Homo sapiens: one gene and its partners. The protein of the gene in region 3 interacts with the protein of the main gene of each other region in a pairwise test. Each region holds a gene or a part of one and is shown on either strand. Other genes may lie near its edges.

Region 1 (7,304 bases), on a different chromosome or scaffold from region 3:
TTCCAGTTGCATTGAAAGACTTCTGTACCAGTTGGTAATATTCTCCTAAATATCCCCCATCACCCTGTACCCTCTTCCACAATGGCCCCCCAGTCCAGCCGCCAAAGAATTAAATTAAAGTCTGGAGCTGCATGGGGGGCCTCCATTGTGGTGGGCCCTGCCTTTCAGATTGGCAGTTGTTTAGATATATTAGAGTATCACCCCTGGGGATTGCACTCACTTGCTGGTGGACACCACCTCAAAGCAGAACCGCCTTTCTGAGTCAGGGCAGAGTTTCACTGTGCAGAGACGAAGGTCATCCACCACCACAGTCACAGGGTCCTGGCAGGATAAGGTGATAAGGGGCCAGATGTCCAGCTGCAGGCAAGAGCTGAGTCTCCCTGGGGCCCAGGCATCCAGGACCCAGGTCCACTCACCTTGTACTTCTTCTGGTAAACCAGTTGGTTGCTCTGAATGGTGAACCAGCGTCTGTAAGAGAAGGAAATCATTACAGACATAGGCAGCTTTAGGATGAGGGACGGAAGAGAGGCTGTGCTTTTTGCCCATGAGGATCTTACTGAGAGGACAGACACCTGGGCTGACTGTTCCACGAGACATTCCAGAGAAGGGTGGACAATTGTGCAGATTGGAACATCTAAAGGATGCTATTCCTATCTTGGACAACCCAGATTTCATATAGTTATGAAGACAACTTTCCAGCAGATGGCAGTAAAATTCTTTTTCTAATAAAATGTCTATTGCTACAATTTAAAAAATACTATTTAGGCTGGGCTCACACCTGTAATCCCAGCACTTTGGGAGGCTGATGGGGGTGGTGGATCACCCGAGGTCAGGAGTTTGAGACCACCCTGACCAATATGGTGAAACTCCGTCTCTACTAAAAATACAAAAATTAGCCAGGCGTGGTGGCAGGCGGCTATAATCCCACCTACTTGGGAGGCTGAGGCAGGAGAATCGCTTGAACCCAGGAAGCTGAGGTTGCAGTGAGCTGAGATCGCACCACTGTGCTGCAGCCTGCGCAACATAGCGAGGCTCCATCAAAAAAGAAAAAAAAAGAAAAAGAAAAAAAGAAAAGAAAGAATCTTGGGGGCCAGGTACAGTGGCTCACGCCTGTAATCCCAGCAAGTTGGGAGGCCGAGGCGGGTGGATTGCTTGATGTCAGGAGTTTGCAACCAGCCTGGGCAACATGGTGAAACCCTGTTTCTACCAAAAATACAAAAATTAGCCGAGCGTGATGGCACACGCCTGTGGTCCCAGCTATTTAGGATGCTGAGGAGGGAGGATCACTTGAACTCAGGGGATAGAGGTTGCAGTGAGCCGAGACTGCGCCACTGCACTGCAGGCTGGGCAACAGAGTGACACCCCATCTCAAAAAAAACAGAAAAAAAAAAAGAAAAGAAAAAGAAAAAAGAGTATCTTGGGGAAGCAGCTCCATTTTCTAATTTGTACAGAGATCCCATGTGGGCTAGCAGTGGCCCTAGAAGGGAAAGGAGTCAAGTCACAGCATGCCACCATCCTGTTCCAAACCCTATAGCGGCTCCCAATTGCTCTCAGAGTAGACCCCAAATCCCTACAAAAATCTATAGGGCCCTATAATGACTCATGCCCCCATTAGCTCCGATTTCATCTCCTGCACATCCTCCTCCCTCACTCTGTCCAGACCCAGGGCCACCACCCTGCTCTTCCAACTCCCCAGCTATCTCAGGGCCTTGGCACTGGCTCTTTCTTCTGTCTAGAACTTTCTTCCCCCAGATATCCTTCAAGTCTTTGTTCAAAAGTTACCTTCTCATGAAGCCCACACTGCCCAACTATTTAGAACTGTAACCCCTACCCAGCTCCCCACATCCCTTGCTTTATCATCTTTCTCCTATAGCAAGCACTATCACCTTCTAACATAGCACGTAATTTACATACTAGGTTTATCCTCTGTCTTTGCTGATGGAATGAAACTCTACTGAGGCAGGGGGGTTCGTCTGTTTTTCCTTGCAGTGCTTAGTGTGCTATTACCACTCGAAAATACATCATTGGGTGGGGCGGGCTGATTGGGGGTGTCCTCTCCTCACCTGCTCCAGGTCTTAAATGCGTTGCTGGCCCGTTTGAAGAGATGTCCTTCCATCACCAGGCCACCAGGCCCCTCTCTTAAGCTTGGTTCTGGCTCCTCCCCACCCAGCTCCTGGAGGCACAAGAGGATCAAAGGGCAACTGAGATGGGCAGACACCAAGGCCATAGGCATCTGCCTCCTGCCCACAGCCCTAGCCCTTACTTTCTGCTTTTTGAAATACTTTTTAAAATTTATTTTTAGAGACAGGGTCTTGTTCTTTCACCCAGGCTTAAGTGCAGTTGTGTGATCATAGCTCACTGCAGTCTTGAACTCCTGGGCTCAAGCAATCCTCCCACCTCAGCCTCCTGAGTAGCTAGAACTAGAGGTGCATGCCACCACACCAGCTAATTTTAAAATTTTCTGTAGAGATGGAGTTTCACTACGATGCCTAGGCTAATCTTGAACTCCAGGCCTCAAGCAATCTTCCCACCTCAGCCTCCCAACATGTTGGGATGACGGTCGTGGGCCACCGCACCTGGCCCCTCACCTTCTGTTTCAGCAGCACGTGTCTCTGCTCCATGTCCCTCTTCTCTCGTGCTGAATTCAAGACCAGCTGGTGCAACTGGGCACAGGAAGGGCATCTCAGATGTCCAAGGCCCCCCAGTTAGGAGTCCCTAACCTCCCTCTACCACCTGCTGTGCCCTGGGGCCCCACCTGGGCGCCCAGCTCCTTTCGATACTGGGACAGCCGGCTCAGCTCCTCATGGCCCTGCTGGAAATGGGTAGCCTGGGCCTCCACCAAACGCAGCACCTGGGGGACAAGGCGGGCAGTGGGAAGGCTGAGGAAGAACCCCTCTCCCCATTCCCTTGTGCTGGCAGCAGGCTCTTCTCCACCCTGCCCTCACCCCCGCCACAACTCACAAACTCCATGATGTCAAACTTCCTCTTGTCCTCAATCACGTTGATCTGAGGACGTAAAAGAGGACGTAAAAAACCCCAGATCAGTCTTGAAGACACAGCACCCCTTCCCACTGCACACTGGAGACCCCCAAGCCTCGAGGTGACACTTGAGGCTCTGGTACCCCAGGAAGACAGATTGGGGCAGGCACCTGCAGGGCATAATCCAGTGCCCGTCCCCGGTACCCAGCTCGAGCCGTCCTCAAAGCAGCTCCTGCCTCTTCTGCCTCCTGGGCCCGGCGCCTGGGAACCTCTGCGTTGTGGGTCAGGGCAGCCTCCAGGCTCTCAGCCCCCCGCCAGAAATCCCGGCGAGCCTCTCGGAAACCCCGCAGACCTCTGAGGATGGGAAAATAACACAGAATCGCAGCTAACACCCACCTGCCCCAGCAGAGCATTCCCAGGGTAAAGCCCTCATGTCCTTTCAGTTAGTCTCTGCAACGTGGGAAACCCAAGGTGATCCCTGGGACGGAAGTCAGGACACCAGAAACCCCCAATCTCACAACTCCGTCACTGGGGAGGCTCCTGTGGCCATGGGAAGAGGGCAGCAGGGCTGGTTTCCGAGAAATAAGGCCCCCTTCTCTCCCATCTCACTCCCCCTTTAAAAAATTTTTGTTGTTGTTGTTGTTTTTGTTTTTGAGACCGGGTCTTGCTCTGTTACCCAGGCTGGAGTACAGTGGCACAATCATGGCTCACCGCAGCCCTGACCTCCAGGCTCAAGCAATTCTCCTGCCTCAGCCTCCCAAGAAGCTGGGACAACAGACATGTGCCACCACGCCCGGCTATTTTTTTTTTTTTTTTTTTTTTTTTGAGGCAGAGTCTCACTCTGTTGCCCAGGCTGAAGTGAAGTAGTGCGATCTTGGCTCACTGCAACCTCCACCTCCTGGGTTCAAATGATTCTCCTGCCTCGGCCTCCTGAGTAGCTGGGATTACAGGCACCTGCCACCATGCCCGGCTAATTTTTTTTTTTCGTATTTTTTAGTAGAGCTGGGGTTTTGCCATGTTAGACAGGCTGGTCTCGAACTCCCGACCTCAGGTGATCCGCCCGCCTTGGCCTCCCAAAATGCCGGGATCATAGGCATGAGCCACCGTGCCCGGCCTAATTTTTGTATTTTTTGTGGAGACAGTTTCGCCATGTTGGCTAGGTTGGTGTCCAACTCCTGGGCTCAAGCAATCCTCCCGCCTTGGCCTTCCAAAGTGTTGGGATTACAGGCATGAGCCACTGCGCCCGGCCCCATCTCACTCCTTGACCAGGGTCTGGATCTGCTGCTGCAGTGTGTGTTGGGTGGCATCTAGAAGCTCCTGAGGGAAGGAGAAGTTGGTAGACTGGGGTCAGGACCACAGGTGACCTGGCCACCACCCCGACAATCCTTACCTTCCCCTACTTACCGCATGGCTGTCCAGCTTGTGGTTCAGGCTCACGGTGAATTTTTCCAGACACTCCTAGGCAAGAAGAGGCACAGAAAGAGTACCAGGCATGGGGTGGCAGCACCCTCCCGACTCGAGACCCAGCCTGCTACGGCTGTCATGGACAGCAGCCCAGCCCTGCTGTGGCCTGGAACCTGCAGACCCCAGGCCAGCCCTCCTCTTCCACAGCATCACCTCCTCATCCCAGACCCCTTCCCTCCCAGATGCAGACCCTCCGCATACCGCCATCATGGGCTCTGGTGGACCCAGGCGGGCCAGGTCACAAATGCCGACAACGAAGGCGCGGCTGGCAGCAAGGTAATGGCGCCCACTTTCCAGGAGACCAGTGCCCAGTTTCAGGAGCTGGGAAAGAAGGAGGGTAACAGGGAGCTGTGCCATCATCCTCACACCTGGTGATGCCCCCACACCTGCCCCACTTCCTCTCCCCTTGCCCAGGGCGGCGCTCCCCTATTCCTGCCTGGCCTCACTGCCCTCCAGGCTCATCCAGCTCTCCCTGTATCTAACACATACCTGCTGTGTTCTTATCGCTGCGTCTTTGCTCCCACTGCCTTGGGCCTGAAACCCAATTCCTGCCCATTCCTCTCAGCCTGTCGCCAACACCTCTGTCAGCCTTACCTCCAAAACATCTTTCCCTGTCCACTCGCACATATCTCTTCCTGCCCTGCCTACCTGCTTAGATCCAGAGCTCCGTGGAGATTCCTGCATGGTCTGGATGCTCTACCTGGTTGCTATTAAATTCTACAGTATTGGCCGGGCGTGGTGGCTCACACCTGTAATCCCAACCCTTTGGGAGGCCAAGGCGGGCCAGTCGCTTGAGCTCAGGAATTCAAGAGCAGCCTGGGCAACATGGTGAAACCTCATCTCTACTAAAAATTCAAAAATTAGCCAGGCATGGTGGCACATGCCTGTAATCCCAGCTACTTGGGAGGCTAAGGCAGGAGGACTGCTTGAACCCGGGAGGCTGAGGCTGTAGTGAGCTGAGATGGCACCAAGTGCCTATAATCCCAGTTACCTGGGGGGCTAAGGCAGGAGGACTGCCTGAATCCGGGAGGTCAAGGCTGCAGTGAGCCGAGATGGCGCTACTGCACTCCAGCCTGGGTGACAGACCGAGACTCTGTCTCGAAAAATAAATAAATAAATAAAATCTATAGTATTTACTGCTAGGAGTTGTCCCATTCTGTGCTCACTGCACGTTCCCTCATAAATATTAATCCATCATCTAGACCACGGGTCAGGGCCAAGAGGAAATGCCGGGGTACTCCTGGGGCCCATCCTATCTGGCTCTTTTGACTGACAAAGAGACTTGATAGGCCAGGCAAGGTGGCTCAGACCTGTAATCTCAACACTTTGGGAGGCTGAGGTGGGTGGATCACCTGAGGTCAGGAGTTGGATATCAGCCTGACCAACATAGTGAAACCCCATCTCTTTTTATTTTTCTATTTTTGAGACGGAGTTTTGCTCCGTTGCCCAAGCTGGAGTGCAATGGCATGATCTTGGCTCACCACAACCTCCACCTCCCAGGTTCAAGCGATCCTCCTGCCTCAGCCTCCAGAGTAGCTGGGATTACAGGTGCCCGCCACCACGCCCAGCTAATTTTTTGTATTTTTAGTAGAGACGGGGTTTCACCATGTTGACCAGGCTGGTCTCGAACTCCTGACTTCAGGTGATCCACCTGCTTCGGCCTCCCGAAGTGCTGGGATTACAGGCATGAGCCACTGCACCTGGCCTGACCGAGATCAAATCTTATCAGACATCACCATGGGTTGTCTGTGACAAGGTACAAGGATGTTCACAAATCACTGTGTGAATCTGAGGACTCTGTGTCTAGTTTTTTTCCTTACCATCTCAGCCCCTCCCCCTTAGATGAGTAAGAAACTTTCATAACACTGGACTAGTGACAGACTGGGACATCTGTTCAATAGAACAGTACTCAGCAATAAAAAGGAACAAACTGTTGATATGTGCAACAACTTGGATAAACTTCAAGAGCATTCATCTTTTAAAAAATTATGATTATTTTTAGAGTTGAGGTCTCTGTCGCCCAGGCTGGAGTGCAGTGGTGGGATCATAGCTCACTGCAGCCTTGAACTCCTGGGTTCAAGGGATCCTCCAATCTTAGCTTCCTGAGTAGCTGAGACTACAGGCACACACCACCATGCCTGGCTAATTTAAAAACAAAACAGAACATTATTTAGAGACAAGGGTCTTGCTATGTTGCCCAGGCTGGTCTCGAGCTTCTGGCCTCAAGCAACCCTCCTACCTTGACCTCCTGAGTAGTTGGGATGACAGGCATGAGCGACCACACCCGGCAGCAGCATTATTCTGAGTGAGGGGGGAGGGGGAAGCCAAATCTCAAAGGGTCACATAGTGTATGATTCTATATATGGAACATTCTGGAAATGACAAAAGTAGAGAGATGGAGAACAAATCAGCGGTTACCACAGATTAAAGAAGTGTGGGAAGGGTGTCGGGTACCACTGTAAAGGAATTCCTTGTGTCCATTGGTGTGTGGTGATGGTTAAAGGAATCCATACACGTGATAAAGTACCATAGAATTATACACAAAAACACCAAAAAAGAGTATATGCAAAATGTAAAATCAAAGTAGGATCTATAGAGTTTATTTATTTATTTAGAGACAGAGTCTTGGTCTGTCGCCCACGCCGGAGTGCAGTGGCACGATCTCGGCTCATTGCGACCTCCGCAGGCTGGAGTGTGGTGGCGTGATCTCGGCTCACTGCAACCTCCGCCTCCTGGGTTCAAGCAATTCTCCTGCCTCAGCCTCCTGAGTAGCTGGGATTACAGGTGCGTGCCACCACGCCTGGCTAATTTTTGTATTTTTAGTAGAGATGGGGGTTTCATCATGTTGGTCAGGCTGTTCT
Region 2 (7,304 bases), on a different chromosome or scaffold from region 3:
TTTGACACCAGCCTGGGCAACATAGTGAGACCCCAAAATGCTACAAAAAATTGCTAACATTTATTGAGCTCTTGGTATAAGCCAGGAACCACTCAAAGCATTTTACACGTACTAACTCAGTTAAATCTTTTTTTTTTTTTTTTTTTTTTTTGAGATGGAGTCTCGCTCTGTCTCCCCGGCTGGAGTGCAGTGGTGCGATCTCGGCTCACTGCAAGCTCCGCCTCCCGGGTTTTACACCATTCTCCTACCTCAGCCTCCCGAGTAGCTGGGACTACAGGCGTGCACCACCTACGCCCGGCTAATTTTTTTTTTTTTTGGTATTTTTAGTAGAGATGGGGTTTCACCATATTAGCCAGGATGGTCTTGAACTCATGACCTTGTGATCCGCTCACCTCGGCCTCCCAAAGTGCTGGGATTACAGGCATGAGCCACCGCGCCCGGCTCAGTTAAATCTTATACCCAGAGAAGGAGGTAGCTACTATTCTTATCTTCATTTTATAGATGAGGAAATGGAGGCCCAGAGAGGAGTGAAATTCTGAAAGTCACACAGCCTGGAAGTGATAGGGCAGGAATGTGACTGCCTGCCCCAAAGTCCTTGCCTTTCACAACCAGGCTTTGCTGCTCTTGTAGTTTCCAATGTTTACTGTTGTCTTTCAAAAACTCTTCCTGGCATATTGTTAGGGAGAGACATTTTGTCCCTGTCACTCTGCCTCCTTCAATAACAGTAGATCTGTTAATAAGGCTGATAATAACAGTAATATTAGTAATAATAGCAAGAGTAATTAATAATCATTGGTCTTTCTTTTTTTTTTAGACATGAGGTCTTGCTCATCTCTAAAATGAGCAATGCTACTGCAATCCAACCTGGGCAACAGAGCAAGACCCTGCCTCAAAAAAAAAAAAAAAACAAACAAAACCCTAAATAAACCAACAAACTAAAGGCACAGATAATTATAAGCAAGATTTTTCACCTGTGTGAGGAGCACTAGAAAGTCATGAAGAGGAAAGGATAATTCTTTTCCATATGAGACTGTCTTGTACATGGTAGGGTATTTAGTATACTGGCCTCCCATTCTCTAAATGCTCAGGCTGGTCTCGAACTCCTGGGCTCAAGCAATCCTTTGCCTCAGCCTCCTGAGTAGCTGGGATTACAGGTGCATACCACTGTACCTGGCTTTTTTTTTTTTTTTTTTTTTTTGAGACAGAGTCTTGTTCTGTTGCCCAGGCTGGAGTGCAGTGGTGTGATCTCAGCTCACTGTAACCTCTGCCTCGCAGGACAATTCTTGTGCCTCAGCCTCCTGAGTAGCTGGGATTATAGGCGTCCACCACCACGCCTGGCTAATTTTTTGTATTTTTAGTAGAGACAGGGTTTTGCCATGTTGGCCAAGCTGGTTCTGAACCCCTGACCTCAGGTGATCCACCTGTCTCTGCCTCCCAAAGTGCTGGGATTACAGGCGTGAACCATCACACTGGCCTGTACCTGGCTCTTCATTGGTCTTTACTATACAGAGAGTGCTGTGGTAAACACTTTATTCCACCTAAACTCCCGTTTTGATCTCTCATTCCCCTGAGTGACTGACAGCCCCAGAGTCTCATCAATGCACCTTCAATTTCTTTGTCACTTTCTCGTCACTAGTCATGTCCTGCAAACTGGCCTCCTTCTGGTCCACCCCAGGGCCTTTGCACATGCTGTTGTTAGACTGAAACACTCTACTCCCTTCTCAGATTGCTCCTCTGGAAACCTGCCCTGAGACCCTGGGAGCAGTTTCTTGGTCGTATTTCTCAGAATGTCTCAGACCACTTCACTTGCAGTTGTGTGACTGAACTCACAGCATGAGCTTAGAATATAGTAGGCACTTAGTAAATACTAACTGAATGAATGCATAAACCCATAGGAGAAGATTGAAGCGAAAGAATGACCTAGAACAATGGTTTTCAGAAAACTGTTGTAGAACTACGTGGAAACCTAATAACATAATGATTGAGGGGCACTGCAGGCACTTAGAGAATGGTAGGCAGTTATACTAAATACCCTACCATGTACATGACAGTCCCATATGGGAAAGACTTATCTTTTCCTCTTCATGACTTTCTAATGTCCCTCAAAGAGGTGAAAAATCTTGCTTGTAATTACCTGTGCTTTTAGTTTGCTTGTTTGTTTGGGTTTTTTCTTTCTTTCTTTCTTTTTTTTTTTTTTGAGACAAGGACTTGTTCTGTTGCCCAGGTTGGAATGCAATGGCATAATCATAGCTCACTGTAATCTTGAACTCCTGGGCTCAAGCAATCCTCCTGCTTCAGCCTTCCAAGTAGCTAGAACTACAGGCACCTGCCGCCACACCTGGCTAATTAAAAAACTTCTTTTGTAGAGATCGAGGTCTCCTTATGTCGCCCAGGTTGGTCTCGAACTCCTGGCCTCAAGCGATTCTCCTTCCTCAGCCTCCCAATGCACTGGGATTACAGGTGGGAGCCACTGCACCTGATCCTGTGCTTTTAGTTTAAACCTAACTCTTTTACATAAGAACACAACATATTTTTTGTATGTTTTTAATATACATTGCATTTTCCTGCAATGCAACTATTAAATAAATGGAAGAAAGACTAGACTCTTTTGTATATGGAACTTTGCCAAGAGGTGTTCAACATTGTGGAACATCTTGACACTGCTGGCAACTCCCCTCATGTGGTTTGAATTGTCCACACAACCCAGAGTTAGCCATCATTTGTGCCTGTCACTTCATGGTGATTTTGTGTATGGTGTACATATCAGAATTACTTCACTATGTCCTCCAGAGTCTCATTACTCAAAATGTGGTCCCTGGACCAGTAGTATCAGCCTCATCTGGGAGCTCGTTGCAAATGCAGAATCTCAGGCTCCACTGAGTCCTTAGCCCTACGGAATTACAATTTGTGTTTTAACAAGATCCCTGGGGATTCACATACACATTAGATTTTGAGAAGTGCTGGCCTACCTCATATGTCATACAACAGGATCACTTAAACCCATCATTAAAAAAATCAATATTATGCCCTGATGGTAATATAAAAGAGGACTAAGAGCAGGTTAATTTGTAATAGGACAATGTCTACGATGTCTATTTTAATGGGTAAGTTGTTGAGTCCCTATATGCAGAATCACTATAGCATCTGCTAGAAAGTATTACAAAATGTCGTTATGAAAAAGAGGATGCTGGTTCTGAATGGATAAGTTGCTGGCCTGGAAGATGCCTCAAAAGCTTTCTAACATTTTTATTTATTTTTAAAAGGTGAGGTCTCACTATGTTGCGCAGGCTGGTCTTGAACTCCGGGGCTCAAGTGGATCCTCCCACCTTGGCCTCCCAAAGTGCTGGGACTACAGGCATGAGCCACCACATCCCGCTGCATCCAAAGCTTTGAAACTCTGCTCTCCCTTCAATTCTAACGGCCCAAAGTGCCTTTTCTTTTTCTTTATTTTTTATTTTATTTTTTGAGACAAAGCCTTGCTCTGTCGCCCAGGCTGAAGTGCAGTGGTGCAATCATAGCTCATCATAGCCTAGACATCCTGGGCTCCAGTGACCCTCCTGCCTCAGCCTCCCAAGTAGTTGGGACTGCAGGTGCATGCCACCACATCTGTTTAATTTTTTATATTTTATAGAGATGGGGTCTGCCTCTATTGCCCAGACTGGTCTCCAACTCCTGGTATCAAGTGATCCTCCCACCTTGGCCTCCCAACAGAGTGGCTTTTCAAACTTCCAAAGAATAGCATTAGGTAAATAGAGTTGGCTGAAAATGGCCAAAAATGCTCTAAATTTACCGAGCACTTATTATGTGTCAGCTGCTCTTCCAGGCCCTTTGCATACATTACCTCATTCAATCCTGGCAATGACCCAATTAGATCCCACTATTTCCATTGTGTGAGGCCCAGAGATATGAAGTCACTTTGCAAAAGTCACACAGCAAGAACACAGAAGACTATATAATTCTGGACGACAGTGGGGCTTCTCTTAATAGTTTCCCTGAAATGCTCAAGGCCTCTGGTGCCAGAGAGCCTGGGTTCAAGGACACTGGTTAGAGGAATGACCTTGAGGAGCTCACTCAATCTCTCAGTTTCCCCATCTGTGAAGCCTCTAATCCGAACACTTTGGGAGACTGAGGTGGGATGATTGCTTGAGGCCAGGAGTTGGGGACCAGCCTGGGCAACAGAGCCAGGCCTCATTTCTACTAAAGGTAAAAAAATTAGGCTGAGTGTGGTGGCTCAACCCTGTAGTCCCAGCACTTTAGGGAGGCTAAGGCAGGCGGAATGCTTGAGTTCAGGAGTTTGAGACCAGCCTGGGAAACACAGTGAAACCCTGTCTCTACAAAACACTGTCTCTACAAAAATTAGCCAGGCATGTGGCACATGTCTGTGGTCCCAGCTACTTGTGAGGCTGAGGCGGATGGCTTGAGCCCGGGAGGTAGAGGCTGCACTGAGCTATGACTGCCACTGCACTCCAGCCTGGGCAACAGGCGAGACCCTGTGTCAAAAAAACAAAAACATACAGCATTTTTTTTTTTTTGAGACAGAGTCTTGCTCTGTTGCCCAGGCTGGAGTGTGATGGCACGATCTCAGCTCACTGCAACCTACCTCCACCTCCCAGGTTCAACTGATTCTCCCGCCTCAGCCTCCTGAGTAGTGGGAATACAGGTGGGCACCACCACTAATTTTTGTATTTTTAGTAGAGACGGGGTTTCACTATGTTGGCCAGCCTGTTCTCCAACTCCTGACCTCAAGTGATCCGCCCGCCTCGGCCTCTCAAAGTGCTGGGATTACAGGCATGAGCCACTGCTCCTGGCCAAATACAGCACTTTTTTTTTTTTTTTGAGACAGAGTCTCACTCTGTCGCCCAGGCTGGAGTGCGGTGGTGTGATCTCGGCTCATTGCAACCTCCGCCCCCTGTTTTCAGGCGATTCTCCTGCCTCAGCCTCCTGAGTAGCTGGGGCTACAGGCGCCTGCCACCGTGCCCGGCTAATTTTTGTATTTTTATTAGAGGTGGGGTTTCACCATCTTGGCCAGGCTGGTCTTGAACTCCTGACCTCGTGATCCATCCGCCTCGGCCTCCCAAAGTGCTGGGATTACAGGCGTGAGCCACTGCGCCTGGCCAAATACAGCATTTTATAATATATTTTTATAAACAAATACACAGCACGTGCTACTTTGGCTGTTGTCATTATTAATGTTACCGTCATTCTGCGGATTCGAGGTCACCTCCACTTACTTCCTCCTCCGATGCCTCCGCTCCTTGTCCTCCCTCCGCGCGTCCCCCTCGTACGTGGCTGGAGCGCCATGCCGGTGCCTTCTCCTGCGCTCGCCCCCGTCGGGGCCCTCGCCCTCGCCCTCGCCGCCCCGGGCCGGCCGGCTGCCCTCGCGGTGCCGCGCCCTCCGCTCCGCCTTGTCCTCCGGACCCTCCTCCCCGGGCCTGCGGTGCGCGCGATGACGTCGATGCTCCCCGTCCGCGCCCGTGCGCGGGGACCCGCTGCGGCTCTCCCTGCTGCCCCCCTGCCGGTGCACGTGCCTCCGGTGGGGGTCCCCGGCCTTGCCTCGCTCGGCCTCGCCCTCCCAGAACCCGGGTTGCTCCAGGCTGCCCTCCCGGGCGTGGTGGTCCGACTCGCGGCCGTAGGGTCCCTCCCGGCTCAGCTCGGCCTCCTGGCTTCCCGCCCAGGGCCTCCGTGCGTCCAGGCCCGCCGAGCCGCTGGGGTCCCGGGCCCGATCGTGGTAGCGGGCCTGTTTCCTGAGGAAGTCCTCGGCGCGCTGCTGGCCGAGGCGCTGGTCCACGGTGGGCTCGGCCGCCCGGCTCTTGTTGGTGTTGTTGTTGCGGTTCTCCTGCGGGTCCACCACCAGCGGCCGGTCCAAGTGCGTCTTCATGTCTGGCCGCAGGTGCCGCGTGTAGGCAGCCTTCCAGCGCTCGTCCGGGTCCATTTCGTTATACAGGGCCTCCCGGCTGGCCAGCAAGTTCTGCTTTCGCATCTCACTGGTCCGCTGCTCCCACACGGACTTGGCTGGCTTTTGATTCTTCTGTTGCTCTTTCCTGCAGTGGCATGGTCACAGGACTTAGAGCATTGCTAGGCACTGTAGCTTGGATGGATGACCCAGGCGAACCAACCCACATCTCAGCCTCCCACTCCTGCTCTCCACCCTCTACTCCCCACTGAATGCTAGGAGTCTGTGAGCATCTGAGTCAGGTCCCAGCCTCCTCTGCTCAAGAACCCTCCATGGCTCCCACCTGGCTAGGGGCAAAAGCCCAAGTCCTCCCCCCTGACCCAGAAGGCCCTGTGTAATCTGCTTGTCACCTCCTTGCCTTCACCTCCTCACACTTACTATTCGATTCTAGTCACACAGGCCTCCTTCACATCAGGCATGTTCCTGCCTCAGGGCCATTGCCTATGCTGTTCCCTCTGCCTGGGATGCCCTTCCCCAGGCCCCCCAGTGGCTCCTCCCTCACCTCCTTCAGGCCATGTAACCTTCTAGGTGAGCAGTCCCCAACCTTTTTGGCACCAGGGGCCAGTTTTGTGGAAGACAGTTTTTCCACAGACCTAGGTGTGGGGGGTGGTTTTGGGATGAAACTGTTTCACCTGAGATCATCAGGCATTCGATTCTTAAAAGGAGCACGCAACCTAGATCCCTCAGATGCACCGTTCACAATAGTGTTTGTGTTCCTATGAGAATCTAATGCTGCCTGCTGATCTGACGGCAGGTGGAGCTCAGGCGGTAATGCTTGCTTGCTCACTGTTCACCTCCTGCTGTGCAGCCCCGTTCCTAATAGGCCTCGGCCTGGTACCAGTCCACAGCCCCGGGACTGGGGACCCCTATTCTAGGTGATGCCTTCCCTGACAACTTCGTTTAAAATCACAACTCTCTTCACTCCCAGCATTTGCTATTTCCCTCCCCTACTTTCTCTGTAGTTCCATCGCCTTCTAACACAATATATAATTTACTTATTTATCTAATTTATTGACTCCTTCCCTTGCTAGAATGGCTACACACAGGTGGGATTTTTTTTTTCCTCCTTGTTAATGCTGTATCCCCAGAAGTTAGAACAGTGCTGGGTACATAACAGCTGCTAACCAAATATTTATTGAGTGAAAGTGGGTGGAAGGACAAGAAGTGTCTCTTCCTAAAGCTCAGTTCTGTCAAGGACCACCCCCACTGCTTCCCAAATCTGTGCCTGGGATAGTGTGGACGTTCAGGAGCCAGGGTAGCATCCCAGGGATTAGGGGCACTTACACAGCTATAGACATGTTGGCCGCGGACAGAGGACTCACTTCTGCCACCTCCTTGGCTTTCTGTAGGG
Region 3 (7,304 bases):
CCTGGGCAACAGAGCAAGCCTCTGTCTCAAAAAAACAAACAAACAAAAAAAGTTATACAAATGGACAAAAAGCACATGAAAATATGTTCAATGTCATTTGTCATTAGGGAAATACAAATCAAAACTACAATGACCACTTCCCACCCAGTAGGTTGTTCATAATCAGAAAGACAGACGATAAGTGTTGGTGAGGATGTGGAGAAATCAAAACCTTTGTGCATTGCTGGTGGGAATGTAAAATGGTGCAGCTACTTTGGAAAACAGTCTGGCAGTTCCCCAAATGGTTAAACAGAGTTACCATATGTCCTGGCAATTCTGTTCTTAGACATAACCAAAAGAACTAAAAACAGGTTTCCTAAGAAAAATGTACACGTGAATGTTTATATTTACGACAGCCAAAAGGTAGAAACAACCCAAATGCCAATCAATGAATAAACAAAATGTGGTAATGGAGTATTCTTGAGCCATAAAAGGGAATAAGACATTGAATTGACACATGCTACAATATGGACGGACCTTGAAAACATTATGCTAAGTAAGAAAAGCCAGTTACAAAAGGCCACATATCGTATGACTCCATTTATAGGAAATGTCCAGAATAGTCAAATCTATAGAGACAAAGTAGATTATTGCTACTTAGGAGGCTGAGGTGGGAGGATCACCTGAGCCTAGGAGTTCAAGGCAGTGAGCTATGATTGTGCCACTGTGCTCCAGCTTGGGCAACAGAATGAGACCTCCATCTCTTTAAAAAAAAAAACAAAAACAAAGTAGATTAGTGGATGCCACAGGCAGGGGGAAGATGAGAATGGGGAGTGACTGCTAATGGGTATGGGGCTTTTGGGGGGATGATGAACACACCCTGAAATTAGGTAGTGGTAATAGTTGAATCTGTTAAAAACCACAGAACTATTCACTTCAAAAGGGTGAATTTTATAGCATGTAAATTATATCTTAAGCTGTAATTTGCAAAACAAAACAAAAAATATTACAAATGATATTCTCATGCAACTACTTTGTAAACTTGACCTAATGTTTCTGTAAGACAAATTCTTAAAAGTCACTGGGTCTATGAGTGTAAACATTTGGAATTGTATTTTTTTGAGACAGAGTCTCACTCTGTCGCCCTTGCTGGAGTGCAGTGGCACGATCTCAGCTCACTGCAATCACTGCCTCCTGGGTTCAAGCGATTCTCCTCCTCAGCCCCCCGATAGCTGGGATTACAGGCATGTGTCACCATGCCCGACTAATTTTTGTATTTTTAGTAGAGACGGGGTTTCGCCATGTTGGCTAGGCTGGTCTTGAACTCCTGACCTCAGGTGATCCGCCCGCCTCAGCCTCCCAAAGTGCTAGGATTACAGGCATGAGCCACCATGCCCAGCCTAGAATTTTAACAGATATGTTCAAAAAGATCTCCCAAAATGTTGTACTAGTTTATATTCCTACTAACAATTTGTGAGAGTGCCTATTTCTCCATACCCTGGTTAATTCTGGGCAGAGTCCATCTTTTAATTTTGCCAACATCACAGATTAAAATTTTCTTAATTATTAGTGAGGCTGATCATTTAAAACAAAGATAGTTGGCTACACATATACAAACATATTTCTCCCATGAACTGTCTGTTCATGCCCTTTGCCTGTTTTTCTAGTAAGCTGTACTTCCTTTTAAAAAAGTTTGTAAAAGCTCTTTGCTTTGAGAAATTCACCTTTGTCACAGGTTTTACAAATACTGTAAAGAATTTAAAGCCAGTGGTTTACAAATTTAAATGTTGGATTCTGCTTTCCAAAACAAATGACTAGCAATTAAAATCCTATGATATATTGCCTGTCTGACATAAATAGAAGGCCGAAGTTTTCAAATTTTGTTCAATCCTATGTTCACGTAATTACAGTTTAAGGAACTGCTCTTAAGGAAGCAAACTGACAGGCAGGCAATACTCTAAACTTACCAAGTCCAATCAAAGCCATTCTTGCACTTGTGAAATGGTTCTGAACGAAGTAATGTAACTGAGGAAGTTAAAAACACTTATTAGGTTATATTAGCATAAATATAAAAAGCTGTAAAAACATAAAAGTACAGTTTGGAAGAAAATAAATACTTATAAGGCCTTATAAGTTGCTGTAATGAACTACAAGGTACTAACTGAGGTGAATTACCCTGGGATTTTATTATAAAAACTATTGCTTAAAAGAACTAGAACCTAATTGTGGTCATGGTTGCACAACTCTGTGAATATAATGAAAACCACTGAATTGTGTACACTTTAAATAGGTTGTATAGTATGGTGAATTACATCTCAACAAAGCTGTTATTTATAAAAGGAATAAAAAGAGGCTGGGTGCAGTAGCTCATGTCTGTAATCCCAGCACTCTGGGAGGCCAAGGCTGGCGGATCATTTGAGGCCACGAGTTTGAGACCAGCCTGGGCAACACAGCGAAATCCTGACTCTACTAAAAATGCAAAAATTAGCCAGGCATGGTGGTGCACGCCTGTAATCCCAGCTACATGGGTGGCTGAGGCACGAGAATTGTTTGAATCCAGGAGGCAGAGGTTGCAGTGAGCTGAGATCGTGTCATTGCACTCTGGCCTGGGCGACACAGCAAGACTCTGTCTCAAAAAAAAAAAAAAAAAAAGGAATAAAAAGAAATTAGAGCATACACTGGCCTAAACTTGAAAACGTGGACTATGATTTTTATTATAATGTAGCTTACGTAGTATGTCAGGTTTCTTTTGTGTTTATATAAGTAGTAATGAAGCACTATTAACATTCTATAACAGGGCTAACAGAGTTTTACCACAACACCCTTCTCGTCCATCTTTGAAGCCAATCTCTATAAAGCTTTTCTGACCATGAAGTCATTGTCTATACCAGGGTGTCGAAACTGTAAGATCACAATTACTCAGCTTGAAAAACAAAAACGGTCACTGTCCCCCATTCTTGGGACTTACCCTACAGACTGATATAAAATATTAAATGTGGAATCCTAGAATCCTTATTTAAAACCGACCAACTACCCATCCATCCAATCAACCACTCAGGCGATCTGAAGATTGGTGAGACTTGGTTATCACTGGTTTATATTACCACCTTAGGCTTAATATACAAAAGTAGGGCTAAAACATGTACTTTCAACAGAAATGCTATCCTTTCCAGATGGGTGAAAATTGGTTTGGGGTAACTAAGAAAAAAAAAAAACTTACGACTTCTATGTAAAAAGTACAAATATACAGCACATAAACTCTATCTGTGGTATTAAAAGTAAGAGGTTTAGAAAAAAATGGCTAGAAAGGCTCCTCAGGAAGGAAAGTGATAACGTTTTGAGAATCACTGGGCTAAAGTAATGAAACTGAACTTTTAATCAATTTATCATAATCCGTGCCCTAAAATGAATGGTGTCTGTACCTATGGAGTAACCTTGGAAAGTCATACTCTTTTTCTATTGATGTTTTTCTATTGATGCTGCCATTGCTCCAAGTATTCTAGCGCCAATTTCTTTAGAGTTTCCTTTAGCCTAGGGACACATTTAAAAAATACTATTAACTTTGAGATAACCAAGTTATCACAGTTAACATCTTGATATTTGTCTATAATGCATACATACATACCTTTTATTAAAAAAAAGGGACCTTTTGGTATGTCCTAATCCATAAATTGCTTTATGTGACAACATGCTGTGGAGTTTTATGTATCAACTAATATTTTTGAATGGTTGAATACTGTTCCATTCTATAAGTTATTTAACTAGTTCCCTAATGCTGGATATTAACTTGTTTCTAATTTTTCACAATTATAAACTAGTATTACAATAGCCATCCTTGTAGATAAACTTTTGCTAAGTTTTAGCTAACTTAATGACACATCTTCATGAGGGTGAATTTGATTTCTGAAAAATTTCAAAACTCATTAGAGTCCAGTCTTATGAAAACGGCTGCCTGTTCAAGTTGGATGATGTAAGTTAAAATTTCTAAATAAAAGTGCCATATGAATGAAAGGCATCAAACTGTTAATTGATAAGTCAAAAAGAGCAAGGGATACAGTTTAGTTTTCTGTAACAGCTAACTAAGAATAAAACGAGAATAAAAACCTTGAATTTTTGAGTCAGATATACTTTGAAGGTGTTGATAATTACAAATTTTTCTCTTAATGTCTTTTGATAAAATTTGTTTTTGGGTCTGGGTGGTAGGAATAGGAAATTAAGATTATACGCACATATCTACACTTGTAGATTTAGCATTCAATGTTTCATGTTTTGGAAACAAAGTTCTAAGATGCACATATGGCTGTGGCATGTGACAAACCCCTATAGCCAGCAAACGGAGGCTGGTGTGCTGAAGAACGTGAATGAGTGAGCGAGGATGGAACAGGAGCTAAGGAAGTGGGCTCAAGTCTTATTTACAAATTCAGAGAGACCAAAGAGTTTTAGTCAAAGGACCTATTTTATATATATGTATACACACACACATATATATATATTTTTTTTTTGTAGAGACAGGGTCTTGCTATGTTGCCCAGGCTGGTCTTGAACTCCTGGCCTCAAGTGATCCCTCTGTCTTGGCCTCCCAAAGTGCTGAGATTACACGCATGAGCCACTGGGCCCAGCCCCTATTATGATACTTAAACATTTAAATACTGTTTAAAAAAGATACACAGGCTGGGTGCAATGGCTCATGCCTGTAATCCCAGCACTTTGAGAGGCATAGGCAGAAGGACTGCTTGAGCTTAAGAGTTCAAGACCAGCCTAGGCAACACAGCAAGACCCCGTATTTAAAACAAACAAACAAAAAAGATACATACACACAGAAAACGGTTTAGAAGAAAATATACCAGGTATTAACACTGAGTGCCTTTAGGTATGTGAGATGTTTTCTTTCCCTTCATTTTGTTTGATTTTACTTTTTAATTTTTCTGTAATGATCATGTCCCTTTAGTCATGAAAACATTTCTTAAAGGAGACACAAAAATTGTTCAGATAAAATTTTAGTTAAAAAGCAGGTGGATGAAAAAGCTAGCACGCTGAATTTCTTAAAGTTAGAAGATAAAAGGAAAAATTAACAAACAAACCTGAAATGGGAGATGTTCAATTTAATGTGAAAAACAAGCACATTTCAAAATATGTTTTATTGGTACCTCCTCTGATGTCACTTTTCCAATCCTATAGTCAGGACAATACAAGGGATTAGCCAAGGCATTCCGGTAAGCTGCTGCATGCAAATTTTCAATGACATCTGTGAGATAAGTGAAGAAGCATTTAGGGAAATGCACTTTCAGTAAAGACAACATTTTTAAAACCTAGAAAGCAACAAGCCTATACAAATTTGGTCATCTTCTGGCATTCATATGTTAAGAGGACTTAAAATTTATTATTATTTAACCTCTAGTAACTGCCAGTTTCTGCCAGTAGAATGTGCTGAGAAAAAAATAAAAAAGATTACATGGCAGCAGCTTCTATATACTGGAGTCCACCTAAACCACTTTTCTAACTTTAACCTAGCTGGTATCACTTGGAAGGTATACTGGCCTGGGTTTTGGGAAGTCCCCATCTAGTTATGGTTCTGCCGCCATCTTGCCATGTGACCTTGGACAAGTCATTTAATCTGAATTTTACTTACTCCTAGGTTTCCTCTCTAGGTAATAAGGAGATTGTCAGGTAGCTTTCAGGGGACCAATGGGAGCTTCCACTGGGACTTACTCCTCTGTGGTGCTTGGTGCTTTCCCTGCTTTCTTGCTTCAATGCCTTTTTGCCTGCAGTATTTCCTTCAGTTGCTCATTACCTGGCAACTTGCCTATGCGAGGCACTGTGCTAGGTGCTAGAAATACAGAGATGTGGAACATACAATGCCTGCCCTCAAATTTTAAGAGGAAAAACTGTGAAATAAAGTATTATGGGTGCAATGTCGGCAGTGTGTCAAAAGTGCAGTAGAGGTACAAGGCAAGGGCAGTGGGAATTGGAAAACAATTAATACAAGTAATATGTGGGATCCATCTTACAGAATGAGCTGGTGTTTCCCAGGGGAAATCATTTGGGAACAGCATTTTAGGCACAGGAAGCAGACAAAACAAAGGCATAAAGTATAACAATAATTTGATTCAAATGGGAATTGCAGCTGGAAGGAGAAGAGGGTAGAGCATAAAGTAAGAGAAGTGGGCTGGGGTAAGATCACGCAAGGCCATATACGTATATGCTGTTTGGACTTTATCCCATAGATAATAAGAAGGCTTACTTTCACGTCAGAAGGATCACTGTAATGGCCGTGTGGGAGATGGACTCAAGACGTAAACCTGGAGGCTGACACCAGCCAGGAGACTACACAGTAACTGTTCAGGCAGAATAGATGCAGGCTGGTGCCTCACTGCCGCCAGTGGGGAAGAAGCCACTCTGGACACATAGGTCATCTTTTCTAAAATTGTACTATTCTATCTATTTCTTCAGTAGAAATCCTGAGCAACAAAGATAATGCTCCTCTGTGACACCAAGCATCATCATGAAATAACATCAGTCCCCAGGCCTGCATGTGGAGGGGAGCCTGTCCCATGCTGAACCACTGAGTTGAGCTATTTCTGCTCTTCCTGCACATTTCTGCTCCCACCAGAAGTTGTATGACTCCCAAGAGTCAGCGGCGCTTGCTTACAGACTTGTATTACCAGTTGTACTTGTCAAGATTATATAATTAGACATTATATAAACATAAAATATGAATGCAAAAAAGATTCCTATTAAAAAAATTAAGTTACTTACTTTGGAAAGACTCAATAAAGAGGAGATGGCTAAACAATAATAGCAATACAATAGTAAGCAATAATAGCAGCAGCAATAAACTGGTGTAGGATTTGGGGTAAGCAAAACAACTCTTAAAAATCACTAGGGGTCAGGCACAGTGGCTCACGCCTGTAATCCCAGCACTTTGGGAAGCTGAGGTGGGAGGATCACTTCAGCCCAGGAGTTCGAGACCAGCCTGGGCAATAGAGTGAGACCTCATCTCTATAAAAAAATAAAAATAAAAATTAGCAGGGTGCGGTGGTGTGTGCCTGTAGTCCCAGCTACTCAGGAGGCTGAGGTAGGAGGATCACCTGAGTCCAGAAGGTTCAGGCTGCAGTGAGATTGTGCCACTGCACTCCAGCCTGGGCAACAAGCAACACCCTGTCTCAAAAACAAACAAACAAACAAACAAAAACAAAACATTGGGAAGGAAACAGGAAAAACTTCTAGGATCTTACAAACAATTTACTTACCATCAAACATGAAAAATGATTATAAATGTTTAGAAACAAAAGAATAATAAATCTAAATAACAAATTTTTGAAAAA

Evidence for each region.
Region 1: the proteins of UQCRC2 (region 3) and ACAP1 interact in binary tests that used the Homo sapiens proteins (3 or more experiments, as listed by UniProt).
Region 2: the proteins of UQCRC2 (region 3) and CACNA1A interact in a two-hybrid assay, tested with the Homo sapiens proteins (one study listed by BioGRID and IntAct).

The regions. Positions count from the first base shown.
Region 1 is NC_000017.11:7,339,408-7,346,711, reverse strand, and holds part of ACAP1 (arf-GAP with coiled-coil, ANK repeat and PH domain-containing protein 1), read right to left. Parts: intron 4,765-7,304; coding exon 4,645-4,764; intron 4,438-4,644; coding exon 4,384-4,437; intron 4,297-4,383; coding exon 4,238-4,296; intron 3,334-4,237; coding exon 3,150-3,333; intron 3,007-3,149; coding exon 2,962-3,006; intron 2,852-2,961; coding exon 2,756-2,851; intron 2,664-2,755; coding exon 2,589-2,663; intron 2,174-2,588; coding exon 2,064-2,173; intron 469-2,063; coding exon 417-468; intron 322-416; coding exon 221-321; intron 1-220. UniProt on the Homo sapiens protein: GTPase-activating protein (GAP) for ADP ribosylation factor 6 (ARF6) required for clathrin-dependent export of proteins from recycling endosomes to trans-Golgi network and cell surface.
Region 2 is NC_000019.10:13,293,313-13,300,616, forward strand, and holds part of CACNA1A (voltage-dependent P/Q-type calcium channel subunit alpha-1A), read right to left. Parts: coding exon 7,238-7,304; intron 6,042-7,237; coding exon 5,232-6,041; intron 1-5,231.
Region 3 is NC_000016.10:21,963,328-21,970,631, reverse strand, and holds part of UQCRC2 (cytochrome b-c1 complex subunit 2, mitochondrial precursor), read right to left. Parts: intron 5,225-7,304; coding exon 5,127-5,224; intron 2,005-5,126; coding exon 1,947-2,004; intron 1-1,946. UniProt on the Homo sapiens protein: Component of the ubiquinol-cytochrome c oxidoreductase, a multisubunit transmembrane complex that is part of the mitochondrial electron transport chain which drives oxidative phosphorylation.